Homo sapiens: one gene and its partners. The protein of the gene in region 1 interacts with the protein of each later gene in a biochemical or structural test. Each region holds a gene or a part of one and is shown in the gene's direction. Other genes may lie near its edges.

Region 1 (3,600 bases):
CATTGATTCTAATTAAATGTTTTATGAACATGTAAAAATTTTGACCTTGAAGTTCATAACATTTTTTTTGCTTATAGTTTTCATACCGATCTAGAGTTCGTCCTTGCGTGGTTTATGGTGGTGCCGATATTGGTCAGCAGATTCGAGACTTGGAACGTGGATGCCATTTGTTAGTAGCCACTCCAGGACGTCTAGTGGATATGATGGAAAGAGGAAAGATTGGATTAGACTTTTGCAAGTATGTTTTATTTTGTTTTTGTTTTTTTGTTTTGTTTTGTTTTGTTCTTTTGTTTTTGGCAGAGTTGCGCTCTTGTTGCCCAGGCTGGAGTGCCATGGCGCGATCTCGGCTCACCACAACCTCTGCCTCCCGGGTTCAAGCGATTCTCCTGCCTCAGCCTCCCAGGTAGCTGGGATTACAGGCATGTGCCACCACGCTGGGCTAATTTTTGTATTTTTAGTAGAGGCGGGGTTTCTCCATGTTGGTCAGGCTGGTCTCGAACTCCTGACCTCAGGTGATCCGCCTGCCTTGGCCTCCCAAAGTGCTGGGATTACAGGTGTGAGCCATCGCACCCGGCCAAGTATGTTAATTTTTAAATGTATGGGATGCAGTATTAAAGTTACTGCCCATTAGTTTTGTGGTGATGTTAACATTGTCTAAATGTTAAGGCTGAGAAGTGATGTATTTCAGACATCTAACTTTCACAAAAAGCTTGTTCATGGTAATTTTAATGTTGAAAAATCAGTAACATCTTGGTTGAGACTTACAACAATGATCAGCTCGTGGGACAGTCAACTAGGATGGGCTAATTTGACTGTGTAATCTTGAATGACTTATGTAGTGGCAAGAATCCTGTGCTGTGTCTGTAAAATTATGCAGTGTGAGGCACCATCTTAATGAATATATAATTGTAATAACCTATACAATTGTATTTGTAATTATACTAACAGCCATACTAAAACCATGTTGATTTCTCCTCAAATTCTAAACTCAGGCTTGTTTTTTTTCATGACATGACAGATACTTGGTGTTAGATGAAGCTGATCGGATGTTGGATATGGGGTTTGAGCCTCAGATTCGTAGAATAGTCGAACAAGATACTATGCCTCCAAAGGGTGTCCGCCACACTATGATGTTTAGTGCTACTTTTCCTAAGGAAATACAGGTACTGTTTGATGTTGCAAATTTTATTTATTTAGAAATTTGTTTATCTCAGGTAATAATAAAAATTTTTTTTCTTTCAGATGCTGGCTCGTGATTTCTTAGATGAATATATCTTCTTGGCTGTAGGAAGAGTTGGCTCTACCTCTGAAAACATCACACAGAAAGTAGTTTGGGTGGAAGAATCAGACAAACGGTCATTTCTGCTTGACCTCCTAAATGCAACAGGTAACATTATGAATTTTTTATTTTATTAGACATGGGGGTTTCTCTTTGTTGCCCAGGCTGGAGTGCAGGGGTTATTCACAGGTGTGATCTCATTACTGATCAGCATGGGAGTATTTGACCTGCTCTGTTTCTGACCTGGGCCTGTTCACCCCTCCTTAGGCAACCTGGTGCTCCCTTGCTTCCGGGAGGTTACCATGTTGATGCCAAACTTAGTGTGGACACCTGATAGGCATAGTACACTACAGCCCAGAACTCCTAGACTTAGACAATCCTCCTGCCTCAGTCTCCAGAGTAGCTGGGACTACAGGCACTCACCACTGCACCCAGCTAAAATTATGAATAATTTAATTGCTCTGGTAATAACCCATTTGGGCTGGGTGCAGTGGTACAGTGCATGTAGTCCCAGCTACTTGGCAGGCTGAGGCTGTAGTATGCCATGATTGCACCTGCGAATGGCCAGTGCACTCTCAGCCTGGGCAATTTAGTGAGACCCCCATCTCTTAAATGTATTTGGATTACCTTTATTACTTTTCCTCCTCAATTCAAAACATGCTGTGTTGAAAGCCCGTTTTTAAGAAGATATATATGTATTTTAATTGACACATTAAAATTGTGCATACATAAGTGCAAAGAGAACTAAGCCATGTTAGTGACAAAAACCTATAATTTTTCAACGACAGGCAAGGATTCACTGACCTTAGTGTTTGTGGAGACCAAAAAGGGTGCAGATTCTCTGGAGGATTTCTTATACCATGAAGGATACGCATGTACCAGCATCCATGGAGACCGTTCTCAGAGGGATAGAGAAGAGGCCCTTCACCAGTTCCGCTCAGGAAAAAGCCCAATTTTAGTGGCTACAGCAGTATGTATAAACATCTTTCTTTTATTCAAATTGAGCATGTTCAAGTATTTGTTTTCTTTTAAGTGGGCCATATCTCATAAAAGTTATTTTCCAGGTAGCAGCAAGAGGACTGGACATTTCAAATGTGAAACATGTTATCAATTTTGACTTGCCAAGTGATATTGAAGAATATGTACATCGTATTGGTCGTACGGGACGTGTAGGAAACCTTGGTAAGTATTTGATTACTTGATGGTTTCATTGTTTTTTGCTGTGATGTGTGCAGGAAAGAACTTGCTAGGATCTAAAATACATTTTTAACAATGAAAGTGACAAAGATTTTGCTCAAAGCACTTGTTTAAATATTACGTGGTAATATTTTAAATATTTCTACGTAGGAAAGTAAGAATAGTAGCAAGTTACTTTATGGAAGACCTTTGTTTATATACTTTTTTGGGAACTCTTTTAGGCCTGGCAACCTCATTCTTTAACGAGAGGAACATAAATATTACTAAGGATTTGTTGGATCTTCTTGTTGAAGCTAAACAAGAAGTGCCGTCTTGGTTAGAAAACATGGCTTATGAACACCACTACAAGGGTAGCAGTCGTGGACGTTCTAAGAGGTGAGGTATAAATAGTATATAATGAGGGGAATGGGTGTTCACTTACAGTTCATAGTGTTTCCTCTGCATGCATAACGTCCAAGGTTAACTGTACAGTATTTAAAAAGCTTAATCATCTTAGGCTTCCTAGATTCTTTGGTAAGGGGTTGTATTAGAATGGGTGACACTCTGTTGGGGAAAATATGGCTGGATGGGGAATTGTTTGAATGGAAAAATTAGAAATTGGTCATTAGGAAAGAGTTAGGTTACTTTAGTGGAATTTCATCTTCATGTGAACCAACATAATTTTTTTCTTATAGTAGCAGATTTAGTGGAGGGTTTGGTGCCAGAGACTACCGACAAAGTAGCGGTGCCAGCAGTTCCAGCTTCAGCAGCAGCCGCGCAAGCAGCAGCCGCAGTGGCGGAGGTGGCCACGGTAGCAGCAGAGGATTTGGTGGAGGTAGTGTTAATCTGTAACTTCATAGCTTTGGGAAGGGTTTTTTTCCTTTTAGTCATCTTTTTCAAAGCCTAATTAAACAATTTAAGTTCAGCACTATAGAAACTTGATGGCAAATTACGTAAGGGAAGGATTGTATTTAATGATGGATAACTTCATTAATTTCTCTCTCTTTTTAAATCTCTCATTAGGTGGCTATGGAGGCTTTTACAACAGTGATGGATATGGAGGAAATTATAACTCCCAGGGGGTTGACTGGTGGGGTAACTGAGCCTGCTTTGCAGTAGGTCACCCTGCCAAACAAGCTAATATG
Region 2 (3,829 bases), on another chromosome or scaffold:
GCTTCAAAAAACACATATTTATTCTCTCAGAGTTTCTCTGGCTCAGGAATCTGGACATGGCTTTATGGGTGGCCTGCATAGGGTCTCACCAGGCTACAGTCTGCGAGGGATGGCCAGGCTGTTTCCTTTGGAGCTCAGGGTTGTCTTCCAGGCTCATGTGGTTGTTGGCAGAATTTAGTTCCTTATGGTTGTAGGACTGAGGCCCCCCGCAATTTCCTGCTGGCTGTCTCTCAGATTGATAGCTGACTTCTTCAAGGCCAGCATGAGAATTTCTCCTCTAGAAAGATGCAATCCCTCTTTTAAGGTCTTTTACCTGATTAAGTCAGGCCCACCCCAGATAATTGCCCTTTGATGAACTCAAAATCAATTGATTTGAGATGCTAATTACACCAGCAATATTCCACCCCCTTTGCCACATGACATAACCTAATCACAGGAGTGATATCCTATTTCATTCACCGTCCTGCCGATACTGAAGGGGAGGGCATACTATAGGGTATGTACATCAGTCGGGGTCGGGGGCTTGAGGGCCATCTTAGAACGTTGCCTGCCACTCACACTCCACCTCTTCCTCCCATCCTTCCTCCAGCAGCTCCTGGAAGTGTGTGTTAGTAGTCCCTTTTGCATTGCTATAAAGGAGTACCTAAGACTGAGTTATTTATTTATTTTATGTATTTATTTTGAGATGGAGTTTCACTCTTGTTGCTCAGGCTGGAGTGTAGTGGTGTGATCTTGCTCACTGAAACCTCTGCCCCCAGGCTCAAGTGATCCTCCTGCCTCAGCCTCCTGAGTAGCTGGGATTACAGGCGCACGCCACCATGCCCAGCTAATTTTGTATTTTTAGTAGAGACGAGATTTCACCATGTTGGCCAGGCTGGTCTCGAACTCCTGACCTCAGGTGATCCACCCACCTCGGCCTCCCAAAGTGCTGAGATTACAGGTGTGAGCCACTGCGCCCAACCAGACTGAGTAATTTATAAAGAAAAGAGGTTTATTTGGCTCACAGTTCTACAGGTTGTACAAGCATGGCACCAGCATCTGTTTGGCTTTTAGTTAGGCCTTTGGTGAGGAAGGAAGCTTTTACTCATGGCAGAAGGTGAAGCTGGGAGCAGGCATGTCACAGGGTTAGAGAGGGAACAAGAGACAGAGGAGGAAGTGCCAGCCTCCGTTAAACAACCAGTTTGTGCAAGAACTCACCTGTTACCATGGGGAGGGCACCAAGCGGTGCATGGGGAATCCACCCCCACGACACGAACACCTCCCACCCTGCCCCACCTCCAACACTGGGAATCACATTCCAACATGAGATTTGGAGGGGACAAACATCCAGACTGTATCAAAGTATCTGTCTAAAGCATGGGCCCCCTGCTGTTTCTGGCCTCATGTCCCTTAACATGGCCTGCAGGGTCCTAGGTGACTGGGCCCCGCCTGTGCCAGCAGTCTCATCTCATATCATCCATCCCTGGCTCATGCCCTATGCACTCACTGTTCCCCAGACACAGTGGGTGTGGGTGGGATGCCATGCTGGGCATTCTTGCCTAGTGAGTCGTATCCTTCCAGGGCCTTGGATCCCATTGCCATGCCGTATCGGTGTTCCCAAGCATGCCACACTGTTTCTACAGTAACATTGGGTGATGTTGTTTCAGATGTGCATTTTTTCATGGCTGTTTTGACTGTAAGCCCATCTCTTATTACCCCCATTCATCCTCCTGCCAATCTGACCAGCACATAGCAGAGTGCTTGGCATATAGTGGTGTGCCCCATTGATTGAGTGACCTGCAGCTATACCTGAAAGACCCAGATTCCTTGTTCAGATCAGGGGGTGGGGAGACAGTGCAGGAGTGAATGGGAACCTTGTCTCTGTGCACTGAGGCCTGATGCGTGCCTAGTCTGGATGGCGTTAAGTTTCATCCCAAGTGTTCATTCCTGTCTGTTGGAGCAGCTGCCCCGAGCTCTCGAAGGATCTGAGTGCACATCTAGGCTTCTTGATACTGTACAACCCTATTTTTCTCAAAGTTTGGGACTTCCAGGAAGACCCTCCCTTCCCATAAGATATTCCCTGGCTGCAATCCACATCCCTTGAGATGTCCCTGTCTGTTACCAGAATGTGTGATTAGAGCTGTTCCCCTAGGATTGGGGTGGTCCTGAGTTTCCTGTGCTTTTCCACCTTTAGCTGGAAAAGTGGAAAGAACATTGTCCTGGGGGATCGGAAGATCTCAGTCCCAGCTGTGTCTGTGCCCCTAGCTGGTGGAGTTCCTGCCATGTCTAGACCTCAGTTTCCCCATCTGTAAGATGAGTGACCTCTGGGGTCCCCTCCAGCTCCAGATTACTGTGTCTTCAAGTGTCATTTAAACTCCTGGTGACCTCTGGCCTGTAATTTGAGAAGGCCAATTGGACTTAGCACTCTTGGGCATAGGGGAGAGCCTCCTGGGGTTGGTGAGGACTGAGCCCAGGTCCCCGTTTCACCAGAGCTGCCTGCACTAACCCCCTGGCATGTTCCAGAAAGCATCAAAACTGCGAGGAATCTCAACAAAGCCAGTCTACATCCCCGAGGTGGAACTGAACCACAAGCTGATAAAAGGCATCCACCAGAGCACCATAGACCTCAAAAACGAGCTGAAGCAGTGCATCGGGCGGCTCCAGGAGCCCACCCCCAGTTCAGGTGACCTTAGCAGCCCCCTATGCTGCCCCCTGTGGAACCCTGCAACCCGATGGGTCCCCTAAATGTTTTGGGATGGGAGATTGGGGCGTGATCCCGAGCACTGGGGCCTGAGTTTCAGGGCTCCTGAAACATCCGCCCTCTGTCTGGAGGCTGGTGGGGAGTCTGCTTCATCCTGACATTTTAGGATCTTTCCTAAAGCATTTTTGGGGACTTGATGTTAATGCTTGGACTTTCTGGACAGATAGGCTCTTTTGGCCTGTGATCTTGAGGCCAACTTGGATGGGTTTTGAATAAGCTAGGGCTTGTTATTGTGTTTGGTGGGGGAATGGCCCGTTTGGGGGAGAAATCTAGAATTCCTCTTTGACACCCCCTTTTCATCACCCCATATCCAATCCATTGCCAAATTTCACTTCTTTCAATCTCCTGACTCAGTCTGCTGATCCTAGCACTGCTTGCCTGTTCTCCATTGCCATCACCTGTCGCCCCATGACTGTAGCAGCTTCCTAAACCCTCTGCATCTGCCGCTGCAGCCAGAGAGGGATTTTCATGATGCAGAGCTCATGTCCTGGGACCTATTCTGCTTTGCCCTCTCACTAGGCTTCCTATTACTCCCTGATGCAGACCAAACCCTTGACCCTGGTCTAGATGCCAGGTCAAGCCCTGTTGGTCTCTCTCCAGCCCCAAGGCGCCCCCCACTCTCCTCTGGTGCATCTCTCTGCATTCAGTTCCTCAAATATGCAAAACTTCCTGCTACAGGGCCTTTGTGTTTGCTCTTCCCCACTCTCCAGAAGGCTTGAACTCCACCGTCTTCACTAATTAACTCCTCTCACCCTTCAAAGATCAGCAAAACATTACATTTATAGCCAGCCTCCCCTGCCACTGCTCCCACTCCTCAGACTGGGCCCAGGGTCCTTGTCATCCTCTTGGGACTCTTGCATGGGTAGTATCGCATTCTTCCTTGGGATCCCCGTATATCTCCCTCATTAGGTTGTGATCTCTGTGAGGTCAGGGGCTGCGGCTTATTTATTTATTTATTCAGGATCTTGCTCTGTCGCCCAGGCCGGAATGCAATGGCGTGATTATAGTTCACTGTAACCTCAAACTCCTGGGATTAAGTGATCCCTCTGCCTCAGCCTCCCGACTAGCTAGGACTATAGATACACACCA
Region 3 (3,829 bases), 260 kb from region 1:
TTAGTTGGTCACACAACAAGTGTCTTTGAGCTTATTTTTATTTAATAAGATCAATTTCTAACGTTTTAGTTTCAAAATTTTAGTATTAAAACCAATCTTTGTTTAAAACAGATGTTAAGAATTAGTTATTTGAAATATCTAGCAGTGTGTGTTAATGGATTAGTGTTCTTCTAAGTCTTTTGGGCAGTGAAGGTGAGGGGGGTCTTATCCTGAGATTGAGTTAGTTGATTTTTATTCTGAAAGAACGTATTACTTTTTATGGTAGCCTACATTATGTTTCCCCTCTTGTAGGTATGTTTTCTGAGTCTTGAATTGTTTTTCTTTTTTTTTTCAAAAAGGGAAAAAACCGGATTTTAGTTGTCATTTGGTTCTTTTAGGAGCTGTGTTTTTGAAAGCCATCCTGTGTATTGCTAAGTTCTTGTATTATTTTAACATAGAGTTTAACGTTAATATTTGGGAAAGAGTTAGTGCATTGGACCTCAACCCTGACTGGACATGAGAATCACTTGGCGGGGTTAAAAAACAACCACAACAAAAAAACTGATCCCTGGGTTCCACCCCCAGAGACTGATTAATTGGTCTGATAGGGAGCCTGGGCAAAGGTATATTTTAAAAGCATTGTGGATGATTCTTACATGCATTTGGAGTTGAAAACCACTGGGCTATTGTTTTTATCATGTTGTTAGAACTTTCAAGTGGATAAATAAGAAAATGGATTTTTTTCTCAATTGTTTTCAGTTATTAGCATGATTATCATTTGAGCATTAATTGTCTGTCAGCACTGTTAAGCATTTTCCATTTATTGCCTTACGATGGGTCTGAGGTCTGTCAGGTTCAACCAGTGGTGCTTCGACTACTGTGCTATGTTAGTGAAATGACACTGATTGCTATTTTTAAAAAAGCATTTAGAGCTTTTGGTTTGTTTCTCGTACCAGAGTAAGTTAAGATATAGTTTAGTTTTTAAGACTATCAAGATAGTCTCCAATTTGATAAATATCTTGGTTGCCCAAGGGAGATGTTAAAAGCTATGTGGCAAATAGGTTTCTCCCCTTCCATATATCTTCCAGCGTGCTCAGGGTGATAGTTTAGTTGGTGCGTTTATGACAAAATATTACACAACATTCCTAAAAGGTGTAGAAACTATGCATTTGTCTCCTAGTAATTTATTTAAATGATCCCACAAATTACCGTTTAGTGTCACATGAAATTCTGTTATCTCAGTTTGAGAATTTAGAGTTTTATTTGTCTTAGTCAAAATCAGTTTGATTTTGATTAAGCGTTTTGAATTTTGTGTTGTTTTGGGATTGATGTATAATTGTTTTATGGAACGAATGAAATAACAATAACAGACATTTATTTGGAGTTTCTGTCTCTTAATCCCCTTGGTCCATTGGACCAAATTCTGCATGGTGGGGGCATGGCAGCAGGGAAGCCTATAGGAGTTTAGGATCTATGAGGGTTTTTTTTTTTTTTTTTTTTTTTTTTTTGAGACAGATTCTCACTCTGTCACTGAGGCTGGAGTGGTCACGGTTCACTGCAGCCTCCACCTCTCCTGGGCTCAGGTGATCCTCTCCCCTTAGTCTCCTGAGTAGCCGGGACTACAGGTGCTCCCATGCCTGGCTATTTGTATTTTTTTTCTCTTTTATAGAGATGGGTTTTGCCTTGTTGCCTAAGCTGGTCTTGAACTGCTGGGCTCAAGCTGTCTGCCTACCTGGGCCTCCCGAAGTGTTAGGATTCCCGGCATGAGCGACTGGGCCCGGCCCTATGAGCATTCTTAGTGTGACACAAGATTCCCCAAAGATCTTTTTGTTAAATTATAGAAAATGAGACTATAAGGATCATGAAAAAAGTTGATGTAATAAGGAAAAAGACTTAAAACTTCTAACACTTACCTATATTGGGCATTGAATTTATAATTTATTGTGGATTATAAAGTGATGACCATTGTAATATACTTTTAAAGAATAACTTGTGAAAAAGTATATTGTTAGGATGAGATCGCTTACCTAAAATTTATTCTTCAAAGATACTCATGCTAAATCTTGGTGTCTTCAACGTGTGTATACACACATATCTTATATTTGGCAGCAAATGGATTTTCAATTTTATTCTCAATCACTGCCTAACAAGGATTTTCTACCACCTCTGTGTATCAATCATCTGTGGAGCTTTTTCAAAATATATATTTGCTCTATAGGTGAGTCTGATGTGTAACCAGAGGTTTTTTTTTGCAGTCCCTTTTAGGGAAAGGGGAGAATTGAGACCCTTTGCATGTCATGTGTTCCACCATTAGGCAGCAGTACTCTTGTTTGAGTTTCGTTTTGTTAGTCACACAGTCAAAAATTCCAGACTGAAACACAAACATGTAGTGAAAAGCTCAAACACTAGAAGAGACAGGGATTCCACACTCACATGTATTATATACAGTATATGTGCACATATATATCAAATTTATTGTCACTTAGCACCTTCTCGGTGTTACGGTTCCAGCTCTACTATAAACATTAATATCTGTTAAGACATTTGTTTCCTTTTTAATCCGTTCAACAAATACTTCTGGGGCATCTGCTGTGTGCTAGGCACTGTTCTAGAGATTACTGTTGTCTAGAAGCTAACATATGAAGTGAGGTGGGCTGGACTAGCTGATCTCTAAAGTCTTTAGTGCTAGTTTTCTGGCATTCTTTTATGTACCTCGTAGGAGAGATTGGATTAAGTTGTTATTTAAAAAAACTTTGTTATGGTATATGCCAATTGAATTTTTTTTGTCACTAAATAGAATTTCATTCTGAACTCCAGTTTTCTCCAGTGAGCCCAAATGTCAAGTATAGTAGAAATAGGTTCTTTTGGAATTCTTGGCATACTGGCTTTAGGAATAGCTGTACTTCTGATGCTGTTAATTTTTGACCAGAAATTACATACTCTGGTGTCACCCCTTACTCCTGCCATTCCTTTGCTGTATTGATGCTCTATTATCTCTATACAGTGTGTTTTTCTATTTAATTTACTTTGTTTAGGTGTTTTGATTAATTTTGTCCTCACAATTCTATCTTTAAGGTTAGTGGCTTTCATTCTAAGTCAGTGATAATATCCTTAGCACCTAGAAAGTGCCTGGCATATAGACATTTAGTAACTGTTGGATGAATATAGTTTATCACATTCTTGCTATTTTACTTATTTTTTGCTAAATCTTTTTACTTCTGGGAGTCACTTTTCTTACTAATCTCATTACAATGAGAAATCCTGGAAGAGATCTCAATTCTTTCTAGTCAGACCCTTCATTTTTCAGATGAAAAAAATGGCTCAAAGAGGTGAAAGGTGAAGTAACTTGACCAAGATAGCATGCCATAGACTACCTTCTTTATGAAGCTATATCTATATGTGTCAAATCACATTAATTATTAAATTCTCTGTAGTCACTCATAAAATTAACATTAAACTGTCTCCCTGGTAATGGATAATAAGGTCAGGGATTCTGTCCTTTACCTTTGTATATTACAGAGCACCTAGAATAATACTGTTTATAATAACCATTTGATTACCTGAATGGGAAAATCTGGGGCAGTATTTAACTTGCAGTACCTCCAACCTCTTGTACAGAATTGATTCATCTTCATTTTATGGCACCCTACAGTTTATTCTTATTAATCATGTGAGCTTTGAACACCATGTTAGTCAACCATAATCAAAGGAATTGTTTTCCTTGGGATGAGTTTGAGCTGGTGATCGTGCATATTAGATCCCATCTTCTACAGAGCCTGTGAATTGGGTGGAAAGGAAAAAGGGAGTGGCGAAGCCTCCTGTTAGTATCCTTGATGTCCATTTTATTCCT

The links.
Region 2: of the proteins of DDX3X (region 1) and TRIM25, one has a biochemical effect on the other in vitro, tested with the Homo sapiens proteins (one study listed by BioGRID).
Region 3: the proteins of DDX3X (region 1) and USP9X form a complex in vitro, tested with the Homo sapiens proteins (one study listed by BioGRID).

The regions. Positions count from the first base shown.
Region 1 is NC_000023.11:41,344,162-41,347,761, forward strand, and holds part of DDX3X (ATP-dependent RNA helicase DDX3X), read left to right. Parts: intron 1-77; coding exon 78-238; intron 239-1,018; coding exon 1,019-1,163; intron 1,164-1,242; coding exon 1,243-1,387; intron 1,388-2,067; coding exon 2,068-2,249; intron 2,250-2,343; coding exon 2,344-2,461; intron 2,462-2,697; coding exon 2,698-2,851; intron 2,852-3,150; coding exon 3,151-3,290; intron 3,291-3,478; coding exon 3,479-3,558; 3' UTR 3,559-3,600. UniProt on the Homo sapiens protein: Multifunctional ATP-dependent RNA helicase. The ATPase activity can be stimulated by various ribo-and deoxynucleic acids indicative for a relaxed substrate specificity.
Region 2 is NC_000017.11:56,900,252-56,904,080, reverse strand, and holds part of TRIM25 (E3 ubiquitin/ISG15 ligase TRIM25), read left to right. Parts: intron 1-2,502; coding exon 2,503-2,662; intron 2,663-3,829.
Region 3 is NC_000023.11:41,088,445-41,092,273, forward strand, and holds part of USP9X (ubiquitin carboxyl-terminal hydrolase 9X), read left to right. Parts: intron 1-3,829.